2 separate regions of the Homo sapiens genome follow, and region 2 is linked to region 1. Evidence: fine-mapped expression QTL. A gene starts in region 1. The other region holds a variant in brackets. All regions are shown on one strand. Distances are between the middles of the regions. Region 1 holds the start of RPL10A (ribosomal protein L10a). Region 2 overlaps PPARD (peroxisome proliferator activated receptor delta).

What was found. PIP is the estimated chance that this variant, and not a neighbour inherited with it, causes the effect.
Region 2: its variant is fine-mapped to the expression of RPL10A in whole blood (TOPMed, PIP 0.99).

The regions. Positions count from the first base shown.
Region 1 is chr6:35,465,383-35,473,382 of GRCh38, forward strand. It overlaps RPL10A (ribosomal protein L10a), which reads left to right and starts at 3,019. Exons shown (of 6, transcript NM_007104.5): 1 at 3,019-3,057; 2 at 3,417-3,491; 3 at 3,565-3,645; 4 at 3,999-4,147; 5 at 4,797-4,969; 6 at 5,198-5,398. The coding sequence starts at 3,053. The coding sequence ends at 5,368. FANCE (FA complementation group E) reads left to right here. Exons shown (of 10, transcript NM_021922.3): 10 at 862-1,720. The coding sequence ends at 963. It overlaps MIR7111 (microRNA 7111), which reads left to right and starts at 5,126; the gene lies at 5,126-5,197. RefSeq lists enhancers at 2,459-2,508, 2,785-3,341, 3,519-3,588, 3,649-3,748.
Region 2 is chr6:35,416,677-35,427,399 of GRCh38, forward strand. It overlaps PPARD (peroxisome proliferator activated receptor delta), which reads left to right. Exons shown (of 8, transcript NM_006238.5): 4 at 3,451-3,605; 5 at 5,144-5,282; 6 at 7,270-7,472; 7 at 7,653-8,103; 8 at 9,156-10,723. The coding sequence ends at 9,403. Among named protein-coding and RNA genes, the nearest start is that of FANCE, 30 kb to the right of the region's middle. The variant A/G (reference allele first, on the strand shown) is at 4,026.

The sequences.
Region 1 (8,000 bases):
GCCAGGCTGGTCTCCAATGCCTGACCTCACATGATCCACCTGCCTCGGCCTCCCAAAGTGCTGGGATTACAGGCATGAACCATGGTGCCCAGCCAGGAGCTTTATTTTTAACTTTATCTTGAAAGTCAGGTATTCTGGGCTATTGCCTTTGTACCCTTATGTCGGGGGTGTTACAGGCCCATTTGATGATTTGATGTAGACCCTCCCAGAAAGATGGAAGTATGAACATGCTTCTGTTGCACAGTTTCAGGGGAGCTCCTGAATCCTCTGGAGATCTAGGCAGAAGGACCTCCAATGTGAGGCATCAGGAGTCATTCAAGGGCCTTCAACCTGGGAGTAACTTCATCAGATCTGTACTATTAAGAAGCATCTGGCTTCTGTGAGGAGTGGGATTGGAGGGTGAAGATACAGGGCCTGAGACCTGTCAGGAGGTTGTAGCAACAGGGCAGAAAGAGAAAGTGTGATCCAAAAGGAAGGTAGCTGTCACAGTAGAGTGTCTGTGAACCTCAGTTTTCTCCTCTGTAAAATGGGAGGGTCTTGAGGATTATATACAGCAATGCATATATATGATGTATATGTATGTTTGTATATGGATTGATGCATATAAAGTGCTGCCACATAGTAAACACACAATGATTGTCAACTGTTACTAATGTGGCCGGCTTAGTAAATTGTGCAGCTAGTATTTGGCTCCAGGTCTACCTCGTTAACCATGGTGAAATAATGAGATTAGATTGCTCAGGAGTCTCCTCCTCTTTCCATCCTCCTGGCCTCCTCTCTCCTCAATAGAGCCCCTGGGGTAGTCGGGAGACGGGAGGGATCAGTTGCTGGAGTCCTGACATGATTTTTCCTTCTCCCCAGATCACTGAGACCCAGAGGCTGGGCCTGGCTATGGCCCTAGAACCTAACACCACCTTCCTGAGGAAGTCCCTGAAGGCCGCCTTGAAACATTTGGGCCCCTGACCATCCACCAAGGGACCACCCTCTTGGTGCTCCATCACCAGCTTCCTGAAGGGCATTTCTTTCTTCACCACCTTGTCTTGAGCCCTAGCCTGAGGATAAAGGCTGAGCCTGGCCATCCCAGATTGCAACTGCCTCCCTGTTACAGGCTGCATAGGGAATATTGGCTTCCCAGCCAGCAGGGAGGCTCCTGGGCTAAGGGAGCTCAGCTATATTTTCTTTTTCATTTCTTTTGTTTTTGAGAGAAGGTATTGCTCTGTCATCCAGGCTGGAGTGCAGTGATGCGATTGATCATGGCTCACTGTAACCTCTGCCTCCCAGGCTCGATCCTCCCATGTCAGCCTCCCAAGTAGCTGGGACTACATGCACATGACACTATGCCCAGCTAATTTTTTATTTTGTAGATAATATGCTGGTCAGGGCTGGTCTTGAACTCCTGAGCTCAAGTGATCTTCCTGCCTTGGCACCCAAAGTGTTGAGATTTACAGGTGTGAGCCACCACACCAGGCCAGAGCTATATTTCCAAAGGCTGCTGGCCCCAGGCACACTCCTCATCAATTCTCAGGCTGCAGGGACAAACTTTCCGATAGGGCTCAGTAGGATCAAGCCGACCCAGAGTGGGCATGGGATGCTCCAGGAGGTCTGGGGTACCAGTGGGCTCAGATGAAGCTCTTGTGCTCATGTATATTATGACCTTCTGTGTTTTTGTTTCTGACTTGAATAATTTATCAATGGTGTTGAATAAAAGCAAGTTCAATAATGTCTTTTTCTTTTTTTTTTTTCGAGTCTGAGTCTCGCACTGTCGCCCAGGCTGGAATGCAATGGCATGATCTCGGCTCACTGCAACCTCTGCCTCCCCAGTTCAAGCGATTCTCCTGCCTCAGCCTCTTGAGTAGCTGGGATTACAGGCGCATGCCACCATGACCCGCTCATTTTTGTATTTTTAGTAGAGACGAGGCTGGTCTCAAACTCCTGACCTCAGGTGATCCGCCTGCCTCCCAAAGTGCTGGGATTACAGGCGTGAGCCACCACGCCTGGCCAATGTCTTATTAGAAGCAGTACCTTCCTTCCCATGAATTCTGGGTATTGAGCCCATCCGCACCCCCTCCACTTCCCTGCTCAATGACAAGGAACATCTTTTTCCTGGTGAGGGGAAGGGTGTAGGGTATCTTATTCACCCTCTGAGGGCCAAATAATGTGTAATACCACCCACCCCATCCTATAGGAGCTGCCCCCACCAGGCAGGGGGGTAGGTGAGAATGGGCATCTTAAAGGTGGGAGTGACTCAGTCTGGAGTTCGGGAAGGGTTTTGGGCAGATGAATCCGAGGAGAGATCTGAAGGGCTCTGGGGGTTACTGTGGCTAAGAGGATGAGACCCATTGGACAGAGGAAAGAGCAGAGAAGACACCTTATGGGTGTGCAGTGCTGTGTGCCTGTTTTACATCCTTGTATTCCTGTAGCACCTGGCTAGACGCCTTATTCATAGCAGTCACACTTAAAACGTAGATGTTATCAAATTAACTATCAAGTGAAAGTTCACTTAAGGACTTTCCCAGCTCTTCCCCTCTGCAGGCGTTGAAAGGACAGGAACAGAACTTTCCGGACACTTCCCTTACCACGAGTCCACGTTAGAGCAAGGTGCTGAGGGAGGGAGGTCGGGCCAGGCTTCCTTTTGAGAACATAAGCTGGTGCGGAGGGCGCGAGGGGAGAGGGGTTTGAGGGACAAGCGTGCCGGAATCCACGCTGTCAGTGAACATCACTGGGCTGTACCAGTACGTGTGACTACCGAAGCTCGAGCCCCGAACCCAGCCGCTTCCCTAGGGGTCCAGCAGCAGCGGGCGCGAATCGGCACATTACCGGGGGACCGCGGGGCGCTCAGGACTGCGACAACTCTGTGGGTTACCGCGCCGGCCTAGCGGCCCAGCGACGCCCCCCAGCGGCCAGAGAAGGCCGCGCTTCTCGGGGTTGGCCCACCCAACCGCTCTGCGGGTAGGACCGAGGAGCAAAGCATTATCGCGAGATCAGGGCCACTATTTGAGCGCATGCGCAAGACATGCTAGTCTCTTTTCCGGTTAGCGCGGCGTGAGAAGCCATGAGGTGAGTTGGTCCTGAAAGCCCTATCCGCGTTCATCCGCGCCTTCAGGTGCCCCGCCGAGGGTTCGGATCCTGTAGGCCGCGCCGCGGACCCTTGCGCCACCTGCGCCGCGGGGCATTTCTCAAGGCGGGTCGGCCTGCGGGTCGCCCTTCCTACCAGGTCCGATCACTGAGAGCCTCCCTCTTCCACCGGGGCTTGGGTCTGGGTCTGAGCTCCCGTCGCTCTACTTGGTGTCCGGAATCTACGGGGGAGTCCGCCGTGGGCCGCCCGCCCGTCTCGAAGCCTAGACCTCGGAGGCTTCCAGGCAGTCCGAGCGTGTGGACTCCGCGGCCCTGAGCGCCCTGTCGCTTCTCTCCCGCAGCAGCAAAGTCTCTCGCGACACCCTGTACGAGGCGGTGCGGGAAGTCCTGCACGGGAACCAGCGCAAGCGCCGCAAGTGAGTGCCGACCCTGGGGCACGGCGCGGGTGGCGAGGGCCGGCGGGTGCTTAACCCCCCTCCTCTCTCGAAGGTTCCTGGAGACGGTGGAGTTGCAGATCAGCTTGAAGAACTATGATCCCCAGAAGGACAAGCGCTTCTCGGGCACCGTCAGGTTGGCACCGTTCTGATCCCACCCAGCCCTCAGTGCCCCCGTGCTTGCCCCTCCCCTGCAGGCTCCCGCTGAGCCGGAGGCGGGCACGTCGGTACTGATGTGCTAGGGTAGTTCAGACCCCCTGCTCCGGGCAGGCGCGGCTGGACGGACCCCCACCCTGGGTCTTAAAACATGAGGGGAGGCGTGGGTAGGCCTCGGCCGAGCCCGCCGGCCAGCCTGAGAAGCCAGGCTGGCTGCTGGTGAATGTGAACGCTCCGGGTAAGGCTCGGTGGCTGCTGCGGTCCCAGACCCTTCACCGGCCCTTGGGACCCAGGGCTAGGCGTAACCTGTTGGTGCTGTCCCCCAAAACGCAGGCTTAAGTCCACTCCCCGCCCTAAGTTCTCTGTGTGTGTCCTGGGGGACCAGCAGCACTGTGACGAGGCTAAGGCCGTGGATATCCCCCACATGGACATCGAGGCGCTGAAAAAACTCAACAAGAATAAAAAACTGGTCAAGAAGCTGGGTGAGTCCGGCCGCTGTGGTTTTGCATGTGAGATGTGTGGTGGGGGCGGTAGAAAGGCTTTTCTGCCATTTTCGATTTTTAAATGATGAGGGGCCTAGAATAGCAAAGGATCGGCGGTGGTTGCCTAGCTTGCCTGAGTGCTGTTTTAGCTTTGGGGTGGTTTGATGTTTGTATTGCTATGAGGATTCCAGTTGATGAGGGAGGCCAGGCATTGTAAGTTGACCAGCCAGGTGCTGGTGAACTATGATTTGGAAATCTTTACGCTGCGTTGTTTAGGCAGTGGCATTAGACTGCTTTTACAGGTAGGAAGCAGACATTCCCAGTTGTCACGTGTCCAGGGTCCACAGCTAAGAAATAGGCAGAATTCGAGCCCAGGCAGTCTTGACCAGAGCATCCGTTGTACAGCGGTTATGCCATGGATCATGGGTCAGCCTGGTTTTCTGAGAGCATGTTTTGGGACCAGTGAAGGTCCAGAGGACTTTCTGGAAACCGTTTGGGCTAGGGAAAAGACTGAGGCGGGGTCTTAGAGAGGGTGCTGCTTGGAGGTCACTTACATGATTGATTCAAGTGCGTTTCTGGCCTGCCACATTTGAGGTGTGCCTTGGTGACCAGGTTCTAAGCAATGCCAATGGCTTCCTCTCTCTATCAGCCAAGAAGTATGATGCGTTTTTGGCCTCAGAGTCTCTGATCAAGCAGATTCCACGAATCCTCGGCCCAGGTTTAAATAAGGCAGGAAAGTTCCCTTCCCTGCTCACACACAACGAAAACATGGTGGCCAAAGTGGATGAGGTGAAGTCCACAATCAAGTTCCAAATGAAGAAGGTGAGTGGGTCTGGCGGGTTGCTATGGGTGAAGGTGTTGGCAGGGTCTAAATCTTATCCAAGTCTCTAAATATGCCAGTAAGAGCACCCACCAGGATTGAAACTTTTGGAGTAACCCTGGTCTTGGCCCGGGTCCAAGTACCTGCTCACCAGGCCACTGGGGGAGGAAGGACAGGCCATCTGCTATTCGTCCACCAACCTGACTTGATCCTCTCTTCCCTCCTCCCAGGTGTTATGTCTGGCTGTAGCTGTTGGTCACGTGAAGATGACAGACGATGAGCTTGTGTATAACATTCACCTGGCTGTCAACTTCTTGGTGTCATTGCTCAAGAAAAACTGGCAGAATGTCCGGGCCTTATATATCAAGAGCACCATGGGCAAGCCCCAGCGCCTATATTAAGGCACATTTGAATAAATTCTATTACCAGTTCCCTCTGTCTGCCTGTGATTGAGGGTGGGGGGTGGTTTGTCAGCTGACAAGTGAGGGCCTTGGCACTGCTGATGGCTAGTTGTGTAGTTTGTCACTTTGATGATGGATAGTTGGGTACTATAGGGAAGAGGATGTTTTTCTGCCATCAAAATCAGGCAGTCTTGCATATGTGATAGGGTTGCTAACGGCATTGAAGCTTTTTGACAGGATTGGTCCATGTAAATTTAAAATAAGGATTTTAGTCAGCATTTCTGTGTTAAGAAGACCACATGTGGAGTATCCTATGCTTTGGGTTAGTAATGAGTAAATGTTAAGGAAAACAAGGCACAGCAAACCAGTACAAAAGTATAATTAATGGACCTTGTTTTTTTTTTTTAAATGGAGTTTGTAGCCCAGGCTGGAGCGCAATGGTGCGATCTCAATCTGTGGGTCCCAGTTCAAGCAATTCTGCCTCGGCCTCTCAAAGTGCTGGGATTACAGGTGTGAGTCACCATCCCCAGCCAGATCCTGTTAACAGTATTCCAGGTCCTTGCCCCAGGCAGGCTAAGCCCCCTCCTTTTCTGAGGCATTTCCCTGTTGGCAGTTCTTGCCTCTAGCACCCAGTACTGCTTTAACCTTTGACTAAAATGAGCTTAGTTTGACTTTGGTAAATAGGGGAACAAGTTCATCCCTGCTTTTTTTTTTTTTGAGTCTTCGCTCCATTCCCCAGGCTGGAGTATAAGTGGCGTGATCTGGGCTCACTGCAAGCTCCGCCTCCTGGGTTCATGCCATTCTGCCTCAGCCTCCCGAGTAGCTGGGACTACAAGCGCCCGCCACTATGCCCGGCTAGTTTTTTGGTATTTTTAGTAGAGACAGGGTTTCACCGTGTTAGCCAGGAGGGTCTCCATCTCCTGACCTTGTGATCCGCCCGTCTGGGCCTCCCAAAGTTCTGGGATTACAGGCGTGAGCCACCACCCCCGGCTGAGAACGGTTATTTTAAAGCATAAAAGCAGTGCTTAACAATGCTGTATTTTGGCTGGGTGCGGTGGCTCACGCCTGTGATCCCAGCTACTTGGGAGGCCGAGGCAGAACTGTTTGAACCTGGGAGGTGGAGGTTGCAGTGAGCTGAGATCGCACCACTGCACTCTAGCCTGGGCAACAGCAAGAGTCCATCGGTGGTATGTGTGGGAGTCGGGGGGTCGGGGGAGATGCTGCATTTCTCAAAACAAGCCTTCCCTGTCCCTGAAATGAAGAACACAGGGTTTTTACTCTGAGCAGCTTTTGCTTTTTTAGCTTTTAAGAAGTTAACAGCACTTTCTTGGTAAGAAAGGTATAAAACCTAATGAGGATGAGCAGTGAATTTTGGTTCTCAAGACAGGTCCAGCCAGCTACTTGTTGTGGTTATTTTTCTTTTCTTTGGGCTTTTCTGTATTTTCTGAACCTCCTGTGATCTTTGCAATCAGAAGGAAAAGGGAAACTTCAGCTTAAAGCAAAAGCAATTATCTGAAGGCTCGTGTGCTAATCGCCCACAGATGTAATCGGTGTCCAGTGCAGCCTCCAGGAATTTCTGCTTCCTGGACCCCTCCTACCTACTGGGGCTCGGTACCCTCCCACCCATCCAGCAGGTGACAGTTTGGGGCTCCTAGTGGGATACCAGGCACACAACGTGGAGTCAGGCAGACCAGGTTGGAATCCTGATGTTGGCAGTGACTGGCTGTGAGAAGTACATTTAACATGTCTCAAGTTCTCCCGATCTGTTAACTTGAAGGTTGGACTAGAATGACCTAGAAGACTAGATTCTAGAGGGTTGCCAGATTTAGCAAATAAAAATGCAGGATGTCCTTAGTATTGCATGGAACATACTTAAATCATCTGTTTATCTGAAATTAAAATTTAACTGGGTCATCCCCATTCTGTTTAACCCTTTATTCTAGAGTCTCATCTCTAGCCTGCCACCCTTAGAGCAAATACAGTTTCATCCTGTGACAAGTGAGTCCAATCAGTTCACCCATATTTAACTGCAGGAGAAAAAGCTAGAACAGCCTCTTTGGGAAAATGTTTGCTTAAAGCTTTTTTTTTTTTTTTTTGAGACGGAGTTTAGCTCTGTCACCCAGGCTGGAGTGCAGTGGTGCAATCTCGGCTCACTGCAATGCAACCTCCACCTCCCGGGTTCAAGCTATTCTCCTGCCTTAGCCTCCTGAGTATTTGGGACTACAGGCGTGTGCCACCACACCTGCCTAATTTTTTGCATTTTTTTTTTTTTAGTAGAGACGGGGTTTCACCATGTTAGCCAGGATGGTCTTGATCTGACCTCGTGATCCACCCGCCTCAGCCTCTCAAAGTGCTGGGATTACAGGTGTGAGCCACTGTGCCCGGCCGCTGAAAGTCTTGAACTATCTCTGCCCCAGCCCTCTAAGGACTGTGGTCTGTCCCTACTGTGGACAGGTGGCTCAGGACAGCAGGGCTTTCCAGGCAGACATGGGTAGGTCAGCAGTTGTCACCTGGGGAGAGCGCTTACCCTCCTTGAGTCACTTAGGGTCAGTTGCTAACCCCTAGGCTTTGGTCTGTGTTGTGCTGGCTTATCAGGGGGCCCTGGAGCTTCCATCTCAGTCAATGTGCGACC
Region 2 (10,723 bases), 47 kb before region 1:
GGAAGTGGTGGAACCTTCAGAACCCAGCCCCTAGTATGAGAAGAATTCTGCCATCACCTTTCTTTCAGCAGAGAGGGAAGCAGTCCCCTTCCGTGACAGTCACATGCGTGAGTGATGGCTCCTTCCAATATCCTGCACTTCTTACTGCCCCTTACCTGGCGTTGCTCCACTCTGTCTCATGTTCTAGTTTTCTTATCTCTTTCTCTTTTTTTTTCTATTTTATTTTTTTCCTGTAGGCACAAGTGAGTTACAGTAGGTTAAGTTACACCTTACCTTTCCTTGTTTTTCTTGTTTATTTATTTGTTTATTTATTTTTTTGAGACAAGGTCTTGTTCTGTCACCACAGGCTGGAGTACAGTGGTGCAATCACAGCTCACTGCAACCTGGACCTCCCAGGCTCAAGTCATCTTCCCACATTCAGGCAATCCTCCCACCTCAGCCTCCCAAGTATCTGGGACTACAGGCATGTGCCACCACACCCAGCTAGTTTTTAAAATTTTTTATAGAGATAGAGACAGGGTCTCACTATGTTGCCCAGGCTGGTCTCAAACTCCTGGGCTCAAGTGATCCTCCCGCCTCAGCCTCCCAAAGTGTTGGGATCACAGGTGTGAGCCACTGCACCTGGCCTTTTGTTTTTTTTAAGTAGAGACAGTCTTGCTTTATCACCCAGGCTGGTATACGATGGCACAATCACAGCTCTCCTAGGCTCAAGGATTTTCCTGCCTCAGCCTCCTCAGTAGCTGGCACTATAGGCAGGTGCCACGACACCCAACTATTTTTTTTTTTTTACTTTTTATAGAGACAGGGTCTCACTATGTTGCTCCTGGCCTCAGGTAATCCTCCTGCCTTGGCCTCCCAAAGTACTGCGATTACTGGCGTGAGCCACCACACTCAGCCGAGTGCAATGGCGCGATCTCAGCTCACTGCAGCCTCCGCCCCCCTGCCCCCGGGTTCAAGTGATTCTCCTTCCTTAGCCTCCCGAGTAGCTGGGACTACAGGCATGTGCCACCACGCCCAGCTAATTTTTGTATTTTTAGTAGAGATGGGGTTTCACCATGTTGGCCAGGATGGTTTCAATCTCTTGACCTCGTGATCCGCCCGCGTCGGCCTCCCAAAGTGCTGGGATTACAGGCGTGAGCCACCACACCCAGCCCTGCTGTTACCTCTTTCTTACCTCAGCTATTTGAGGATAGAGTCTAGGTCCTGTCCTGCATATAGAAGGTGCTTATCATGTGTCTTTTGAGTGAACACAGAGGGTGACATTGTCACGTGCAGTGCCAACAGAAACCAAATGACTAGACACCTGCTGACCTTCCATGGCCACAGGGAGGATGAGAAAGGCACCTCCAGGAGGTGTGAATAATCTGAGGGTATTGGCCACTGTGGACAAGACTCGGTGGTGGAAGTGAGCTCAGAGATCCAAAGGGAACGTGAGTAGAGACATGCAGAGTCTCGCAGAGGAAGCAGACGTGCAGGCCACAAAGACAAAATTACAAGAAATGCCCCAACACGAGCATATGCTCACGGACTGCACAGATTCAAGGAGGAAGTGCCAGAAACCCTGCCTGCCCCAGCATCTGCACAGGCATCCACAAAGGGTTTCTGTCATGTTATCTCTTTTTCTTCCAACATCCGGTGCTGTGAGTTTTATTGTCCCTGTTATAAATGCCTCCAGGAGTGGCAGGTCCTGCCCAGCCCCATCAGCCAGTTGGTGCTGCAGTCAGGACACCCAGGCAGCCTGAGGACTGCCAGATGTGCAGAGAGCTATCGCGTGCCTGCTGCGTGCCCAGCACCTCACACAGCTCTCAGTGTCTGACCACGCTGGTGCCCTGGTGGACAAAGTTCCTGCCCTTGTGGCCCTTTTGTCTAGTGGGTGGCTTCCAACAATGAACACACACAGGATATGTCAGGCGGTGACAAAGGCTACTGAGAAGACCAAAGCGGCTTCACCCTCCCAGAGCACAGCTTTTCCCTCCCAGGCCCGAGAGATGTAGGGAGCCCACTGTCCCAGTCTGGGTCAAGAGGAACAGTTACAACACCTTGGAATGACTGAAGTTGGGAGCTAAGGTGCCAGGACAAGACAGGCCATTTTAGGAACCAGAGACTTGTGTTACCCCTAAACCTCACCAGCCAGGAGGGGAGCAGCCCACTGGGTCCTCTCTGCCACAGTTGGGTGCTTCTTGTGCTCCCCCTCCTGTGGTCAGGATAGGGGAAGCAGGCTTTCCTGCTGCCACTCCTAGGACCCAAGGGGAAGCTGGGGGAGTGGGGAGACCATGTGGGAAGGATGGAGTGCACTTTGATTGGTAGCAGGTGGATAGGTACTCCCATGGTGGGGAAATCAAAGTTGCTTGGCCTGTGTAGTAGACAGGTATTACCACAGGCCTGGAAAACATTAGCCTGGGTTTATCTCTGTGGCTTCGGTCCCCCAACATCCCCTTCTACTCAAAATGGCTGATTCTCTGGTTTGGAGGTTTGGCACCTGCTTTTGGGGAGGTTGCTCAGTCATTAGAGAAGAGTGCAGAGGTTGGACGGTCATCATGGCAGAGGTAGGACAGCTGGTATGTGGGGCCATGAAACCAGCTTTGGGCTAGGAGTCAGGAAGCTGAGACTCAGTTCAGGTCCCCTTTCCAAGATGAAGAGATCATTTCCGAGTGTCCAAAGGGCACTGGGAAGAGAATCCTAGCAGTTCTTATGAAATCATCTGACAGCAGATATATCCTGAAGTCATAGCCTTAGCAAACTGCCTTTCTCGCCAACACACTCAACACCCCGTGGTTCAAACATCTATACGTCTGATAGAAAAACTTGGAGAAATTCAGTGTGTTGCTTAATCAATATGACTGATACCTAAGCTGTTCTACTCAAGAAGTTTTCATGGGAATGAACTTGAGCTTCTTGAAGAGATTGTTTACAGCATCCCTGGAGTCTATGCAAGAATAGAACTTCCTGTGGGGGATGGTGGGGAGGCTAGCTCTGCAGAGGTCTACAGTCCTGCAGTTTCTGCAAAACACGTTGCACACATCTCCATATGGGCCACACGGTGGCAACCTCTGAACCAGGAGAGCTGCTTCCTAAGGGCTAAGACCCTCTGTCTGCTTTCTCTCTCTTGCTTTCCTCCCAAAACACAGCCATCCTCCTCCCCACTGCTACCCCATGGTGAGTTCAGCCCAGGAAGCCTCTGACCCAGCCCTGATGGTAATAGCTGCTGTGTACTGGACATCTTCTGTATGTTAGGCTCTGGGAGAAATGCTGTGGAGACTTTTTGCCCATCCTCCCAGAGAAGCTGTCAGTACCCCCTGTTCTAGGTGAAGAAACTGGTCCTCAGAAAGGTTGACTCCCTGAGGCCACACAGCTGTTAAGTGGCTGAGGCGAGGGCTGTGGGGCTGTTCCCACGCCCTGGCTTCCAGGCCTGGCAGCATGTGGAGCTGCCCCTCCATCGTGTGTCCGCAGACCTCTCCCGGAGCTCCTCGCCACCCTCACTGCTGGACCAACTGCAGATGGGCTGTGACGGGGCCTCATGCGGCAGCCTCAACATGGAGTGCCGGGTGTGCGGGGACAAGGCATCGGGCTTCCACTACGGTGTTCATGCATGTGAGGGGTGCAAGGTACGGACTGGGGGGAGCGGTGGCTGGCCACTGAGGCTGTGGTCACATGGTGAATTGACCCTCCACAAAGCTTTCCTTGCCTTGGGGTGGGGCCCTGACTGTACCTATTGCAGAATTCCTGCCCAGGAGGCAGCCAGGCCCTTGTGCTCCAGACCTCAGCTCTGGGCACTGCAGGAGAAGAGGGGGTTCCCTTGTCAAGCCTACCCTGCTGGGCACCTGTGTTGACCCAGCTCTGTGGGTGATTGTGTCCCCCTGGGGACCAGGCAGCTAGGGCAGAATGAGGGTCTTGGGCTGAGCCATCGTCTTACCTGAGGTCTGGGTTTCTTGTTTCTCAAGGCTCAAAGCGGGCTCTGAGAAAAAAGGACAGACATTTGTTTTTCCAGTGATATTTGTGGGTCCTTCCTAACTTCACACCCATCA[A/G]AATCTCACAGATTATTTTATTGAATCACCACCTCACAAATACACAGAACCAGATACATTTATGAAGAAATCAAGTTAGCCGTGAGACAATCTTATGTTACCAAACTAACAAAGAAGCTTTTTTTTTTTTTTTTTTTTTTTTTGAGATGGAATCTCGATCTGTCGCCCAGGCTGGAGTGCAGTGGCGTGATCTCAGTTAACTGCAACCTCCACCTCCCGGGTTCAGGAGATTCTCCTGCCTGAGCCTCCAGAGTAGCTGGGATTACAGGTACATGCCACCATGCCTGGCTAATTTTTGTATTTTTAGTAGAGATGGGGTTTCACCACATTGGCCAGGCTGGTCTCGAACTCCTGACCTCAGGTGATCCACCTGCCTTGGCCTCCCAAAGTGCTAGGATTACAGGTGTGAACCACTGTGCCTGACCCAATTTTTGTAGTTTTAATAGGGACGGGGTTTCACCATGTTGGCTAGGCTGGTCTTGAACTCCTGACCTCAGGTGATCCACCCACCTCGGCCTCCCAAAGTGCTGGGATTACAGGCGTGAGCCACTGTGTCCAGCCCCAACAAAGAAGCTTTAGGACTTCTTTAGACATTTAAAATAGTTGTGTTTTTTTTTTGTTTTGTTTTGTTTTATTTTGTTTTGTTTTGTTTTGAGATGGAGTTTCACTCTTGTTGTCCAGGCTGGAGTGTAATGGCGCGATCTTGGCTGACTGCAACCTCCACCTCCCGGGTTCAAGCGATTCCCCTGCCTCAGCCTCCTGAGTAGCTGGGATTACAGGGGTGTGCCACTACACCCAGCTAATTTTTCTGTATTTTTAGTAGAGACGGGGTTTCACCATGTTGGCCAGGCTGGTCTCAAACTCCTGACCTCAGGTGATCCGCCCACCTCGGCCTCTCAAAGTGCTGGGATTACAGGCGTGAGCCACTGTGCCTGAACTAAAATAGTTTTAATTAAAGTTTTAGAATTACTTTCCTTCTCCATCTCCCCTCCAAAAAAATTTCTTCTCGTTACTTCCAAATGTCAGGAGTGTTTACACCTTATACATAATCGGGCCCTTTGGCACAGCCTCCCTCCCACCTCCTGGTGGCCTTTCCTCACCTGTTCTTGGTGCTTCAGGGCTTCTTCCGTCGTACGATCCGCATGAAGCTGGAGTACGAGAAGTGTGAGCGCAGCTGCAAGATTCAGAAGAAGAACCGCAACAAGTGCCAGTACTGCCGCTTCCAGAAGTGCCTGGCACTGGGCATGTCACACAACGGTGAGAGCTGACCAGGGCAACTCACGGGCTGCTGGCTCCACACAGCCTGAAACCAAGGTCCAGGGAGCCCTTGGGGCAGCCTAGAGGGGGCACCTGTAGAGCAGTGCCTGGCGCACAGTAAGCACCATGGCTGTTGGCTGTTGGCTTTGCTGATCTGGACCTTGGATCTTAGAGCCTAAGACCTGCCACTTCCTCAGACTGCCAGCATCTACCATGGGTCCCAGGCGTGGGGTAGTGTTTACCTCCCTATACCTGAGGTTTACGCATTCTGGCCCAGAAGGGAACTGATAATTGATACCAGCTTGAACAATTTGGGGAACACCAGTCCCAGAAACTCAAGCCTGTCTCAGATGACCTGACACAGCATGAAAGCTACTGCCAAGGCCAGGTGGCCCTTCTTGGTTATAGAAGGCAGGCAGTAACCAGTAAGTAACCACATTTGTCAACTGCCAGGAGCCAGGCAGAAGTTTCTTGGAGGTCACCCACTCCCAGGAGACAGAGCCTTCTCTGCCCTGTGCTCCAGGCCTCCTGCAGAGCCTTGTCTTCGGACCCCAGGGTAGGATATTGCAAAGCCCACCTGTCCCCTCAGTACCTCTCTGAGTAAGACCCCTAGAGGACAGGGGAGAGCCTCTTGTGATCTCTACAGGCAGGTTAGCTGCTTGGCCAGCTTTTACCCAGGGATGCCCTAACTGCCTTGCATCTTAGAGGGTAGCAGTACCTGAGCCCTCCATTTGCGGCTCTCCTGGGTAATGGGGTCTGGCAGGTCTGGGTTTGACTCCTTTCTTAGGAAATCTCGGAACTGACTGAATCCCTCTCCTTACGCTAACTCCAGGAGAAGTCGAATTCGTATCCTACTCAATTACTAATGACAACAATTTTTGAGTGCTTACTATGTGAGGATTCTTATTTAATTGATCTAATAACTCAGTAAGTTTTAAAAAGTATTAGCCTCATTTTTCTGATTAAAAAAGAAAAGTGGCCAGGTGCAGTGGCTCACACCTGTAATCCCATCACTTTGGGAGGCCAAGGTAGGAGGATTGCTTGAGTCCAGGAGTTTAAGACCAGCCTGAGCAACATAGTGAGACCTCATCTCTACAAAAAAAAAAAAAAAAAAAAAAAAAATTTAGCCAGGCTTGGTGGCGTGCACCTGTAGTCCCAGCTACTCAGAAGGCTGAGGCGGGAGGATCACTTTAGCCCAGGAGGTCAAGGCTGCAGTGAGCCATGATTGTGCCACTGTACTCCAGCCTGGATGAGAGTGAGACCCTGTCTCAAAACAAAAAAAGAAAAAGGCTGGGCATGGTGGCACATGCCTATAATCCTAGCACTTTGGGAGGCCAAGGCGAGTGGATCACCTGAGGTCAGCAGTTCAAGACCAGCCTGGCCAAGATGGTGAAACTCTGTCTCTACTAAAAAAAAAATACAAAAATTAGCCAGGCATGGTGGTGGGCGCCTATAATCCCAGCTACTCGGGAGGCTGAGACAGAGAATTGCTTGAACCCGGGAGGCAGAGGTTGCAGTGAGCCGAGATCGTGCCACTGCACTCCAGCCTGGGAGACAGAGCGAGACTCTGTCTCAAAAAAAAAAAAAGAAAAGAAAAAGAAAAGTGAAGGAGTCTGCCCCAAGTCACAAAGCTAGTAAACTGCTGAGCTGGAACTCAAGCCCAGGCCTTTGTCACCAAAGTCTGTCTTACCCCAGCTAGCGTAGCTCAGTCACTCAGTAAGTTAGAGTCCTTGTGTGCTGGGCACTGTGAACAAAACAGACAAAATCACTGCTCTTGCAAAGATACACCAAAAAAAAAAAAAAATCACATCTTGTGGAGCTTGCGATCTGGAGGGGCCACCCCATCATTCCTACCTTGCTGACTCTAGAGCTTCTGGGGGCCTTAGGCTCCAAAAGGATTTGGCCCATGCACCTGTAAAGGGATGGGGATGTCAGAGGTGCTGGGGCCTGCCTGGGCTCCTTGCTGACTGCCCCCTTCCCTGTGCAGCTATCCGTTTTGGTCGGATGCCGGAGGCTGAGAAGAGGAAGCTGGTGGCAGGGCTGACTGCAAACGAGGGGAGCCAGTACAACCCACAGGTGGCCGACCTGAAGGCCTTCTCCAAGCACATCTACAATGCCTACCTGAAAAACTTCAACATGACCAAAAAGAAGGCCCGCAGCATCCTCACCGGCAAAGCCAGCCACACGGCGGTGAGTGTTGCTGCTGCTTGGCCTGGCAGCATCCTGGGCTCTGGGTCCCACTGCCGCCTGCCTGACTCCGGGAGAGCCAGGCCTTCTCCCTCCCTCAACTTCATGGTGCAGGCAAGGGACATGGGGAGCACAGGGTGGGGGTCTCCCGAGGCCTGATCTCTAACGGGGCCTGGTTTTCAGCCCTTTGTGATCCACGACATCGAGACATTGTGGCAGGCAGAGAAGGGGCTGGTGTGGAAGCAGTTGGTGAATGGCCTGCCTCCCTACAAGGAGATCAGCGTGCACGTCTTCTACCGCTGCCAGTGCACCACAGTGGAGACCGTGCGGGAGCTCACTGAGTTCGCCAAGAGCATCCCCAGCTTCAGCAGCCTCTTCCTCAACGACCAGGTTACCCTTCTCAAGTATGGCGTGCACGAGGCCATCTTCGCCATGCTGGCCTCTATCGTCAACAAGGACGGGCTGCTGGTAGCCAACGGCAGTGGCTTTGTCACCCGTGAGTTCCTGCGCAGCCTCCGCAAACCCTTCAGTGATATCATTGAGCCTAAGTTTGAATTTGCTGTCAAGTTCAACGCCCTGGAACTTGATGACAGTGACCTGGCCCTATTCATTGCGGCCATCATTCTGTGTGGAGGTGAGTGAGAGTGGGGCAGGTGGGCTGGCCTGGCACACCCAGTCGTCCTGGGGGTTGGCCCTCACTGCAGGGCACTGTGCCTGAGCTCTGACAGTGTGGGGAAGTGTCCCTGTGATCTTGGCAGTGGAACATGCAAGGCACTGACTGAGCATGCAGGATCAGCTCCATCTCATTATGTACGTAGATAGAGGTGGAGACAGGAAAAAGACTAAGCCAGACGTGGTGGCTCACACCTGTAATCCCAGCACTTTGGCAGGCCGAGGCGGGTGGATCACTTGAGGTCAGGAGTTCGAAACCAGCCTGGCCAACATGGTGAAACCCCGTCTCTACTAAAAATACAAAAAATTAGCCAGATGTGGTGGCACGCGCCTGTAATCCCAGCTACTTGGGAGGCTGAGCCAGGAGAATCGCTTGAACCCGAGAGGTGGAGGTTGCAGTGAGCCAAAATCCCACCACTGCACTCCAGCCTGGGTGACAGAGTGAGACCCTGTCTCAAAAAAAAGGAAAAGGACTAACAGGCAGTATGCTGTCATGTTAATGTGGGGTGGAAAAATTGTCTGCATTTTTTCTGCATTTTTAAAATTCCAACACAATAAATACAATAATAACTATGCTAACTAACAGTGGTCTAGAGCTTACTTCATGCCAGGCACTGTTCTTTTCATCGATGATGACTCACTTGATCCTCACAACAACCCTGTGCAGGAAGAATGTTTTGTGTCTCCATTTTACACATCAGAGAGGCTGAATGACCTGCCTATAGCCTCACAGGCAGACACAGGATTTGAATTAAGCATTGAGTCTCTTAACCACAATACTACGTTGCCTAATCGGGGGGGAGGTGGGGACAAATTGGCAAAAAACAAAAGAAGTGGATTAAGACCAGGGGTAGGGAGATTAGAACACCCAGTGGAGCATTGCTGATGGGACAGGGCTTGGTCTGTCACGGCCAAGGAGGCCTGCCGTCCCCTGGGCCAAGTCACCTCTTGGGGTGGAAGTAGGGGAGCTCCACTGCCTTTCTGAGCTCCCTGGCGTGCCCTGTGTCCCCACAGACCGGCCAGGCCTCATGAACGTTCCACGGGTGGAGGCTATCCAGGACACCATCCTGCGTGCCCTCGAATTCCACCTGCAGGCCAACCACCCTGATGCCCAGTACCTCTTCCCCAAGCTGCTGCAGAAGATGGCTGACCTGCGGCAACTGGTCACCGAGCACGCCCAGATGATGCAGCGGATCAAGAAGACCGAAACCGAGACCTCGCTGCACCCTCTGCTCCAGGAGATCTACAAGGACATGTACTAACGGCGGCACCCAGGCCTCCCTGCAGACTCCAATGGGGCCAGCACTGGAGGGGCCCACCCACATGACTTTTCCATTGACCAGCCCTTGAGCACCCGGCCTGGAGCAGCAGAGTCCCACGATCGCCCTCAGACACATGACACCCACGGCCTCTGGCTCCCTGTGCCCTCTCTCCCGCTTCCTCCAGCCAGCTCTCTTCCTGTCTTTGTTGTCTCCCTCTTTCTCAGTTCCTCTTTCTTTTCTAATTCCTGTTGCTCTGTTTCTTCCTTTCTGTAGGTTTCTCTCTTCCCTTCTCCCTTGCCCTCCCTTTCTCTCTCCACCCCCCACGTCTGTCCTCCTTTCTTATTCTGTGAGATGTTTTGTATTATTTCACCAGCAGCATAGAACAGGACCTCTGCTTTTGCACACCTTTTCCCCAGGAGCAGAAGAGAGTGGGGCCTGCCCTCTGCCCCATCATTGCACCTGCAGGCTTAGGTCCTCACTTCTGTCTCCTGTCTTCAGAGCAAAAGACTTGAGCCATCCAAAGAAACACTAAGCTCTCTGGGCCTGGGTTCCAGGGAAGGCTAAGCATGGCCTGGACTGACTGCAGCCCCCTATAGTCATGGGGTCCCTGCTGCAAAGGACAGTGGGCAGGAGGCCCCAGGCTGAGAGCCAGATGCCTCCCCAAGACTGTCATTGCCCCTCCGATGCTGAGGCCACCCACTGACCCAACTGATCCTGCTCCAGCAGCACACCTCAGCCCCACTGACACCCAGTGTCCTTCCATCTTCACACTGGTTTGCCAGGCCAATGTTGCTGATGGCCCCCTGCACTGGCCGCTGGACGGCACTCTCCCAGCTTGGAAGTAGGCAGGGTTCCCTCCAGGTGGGCCCCCACCTCACTGAAGAGGAGCAAGTCTCAAGAGAAGGAGGGGGGATTGGTGGTTGGAGGAAGCAGCACACCCAATTCTGCCCCTAGGACTCGGGGTCTGAGTCCTGGGGTCAGGCCAGGGAGAGCTCGGGGCAGGCCTTCCGCCAGCACTCCCACTGCCCCCCTGCCCAGTAGCAGCCGCCCACATTGTGTCAGCATCCAGGGCCAGGGCCTGGCCTCACATCCCCCTGCTCCTTTCTCTAGCTGGCTCCACGGGAGTTCAGGCCCCACTCCCCCTGAAGCTGCCCCTCCAGCACACACACATAAGCACTGAAATCACTTTACCTGCAGGCTCCATGCACCTCCCTTCCCTCCCTGAGGCAGGTGAGAACCCAGAGAGAGGGGCCTGCAGGTGAGCAGGCAGGGCTGGGCCAGGTCTCCGGGGAGGCAGGGGTCCTGCAGGTCCTGGTGGGT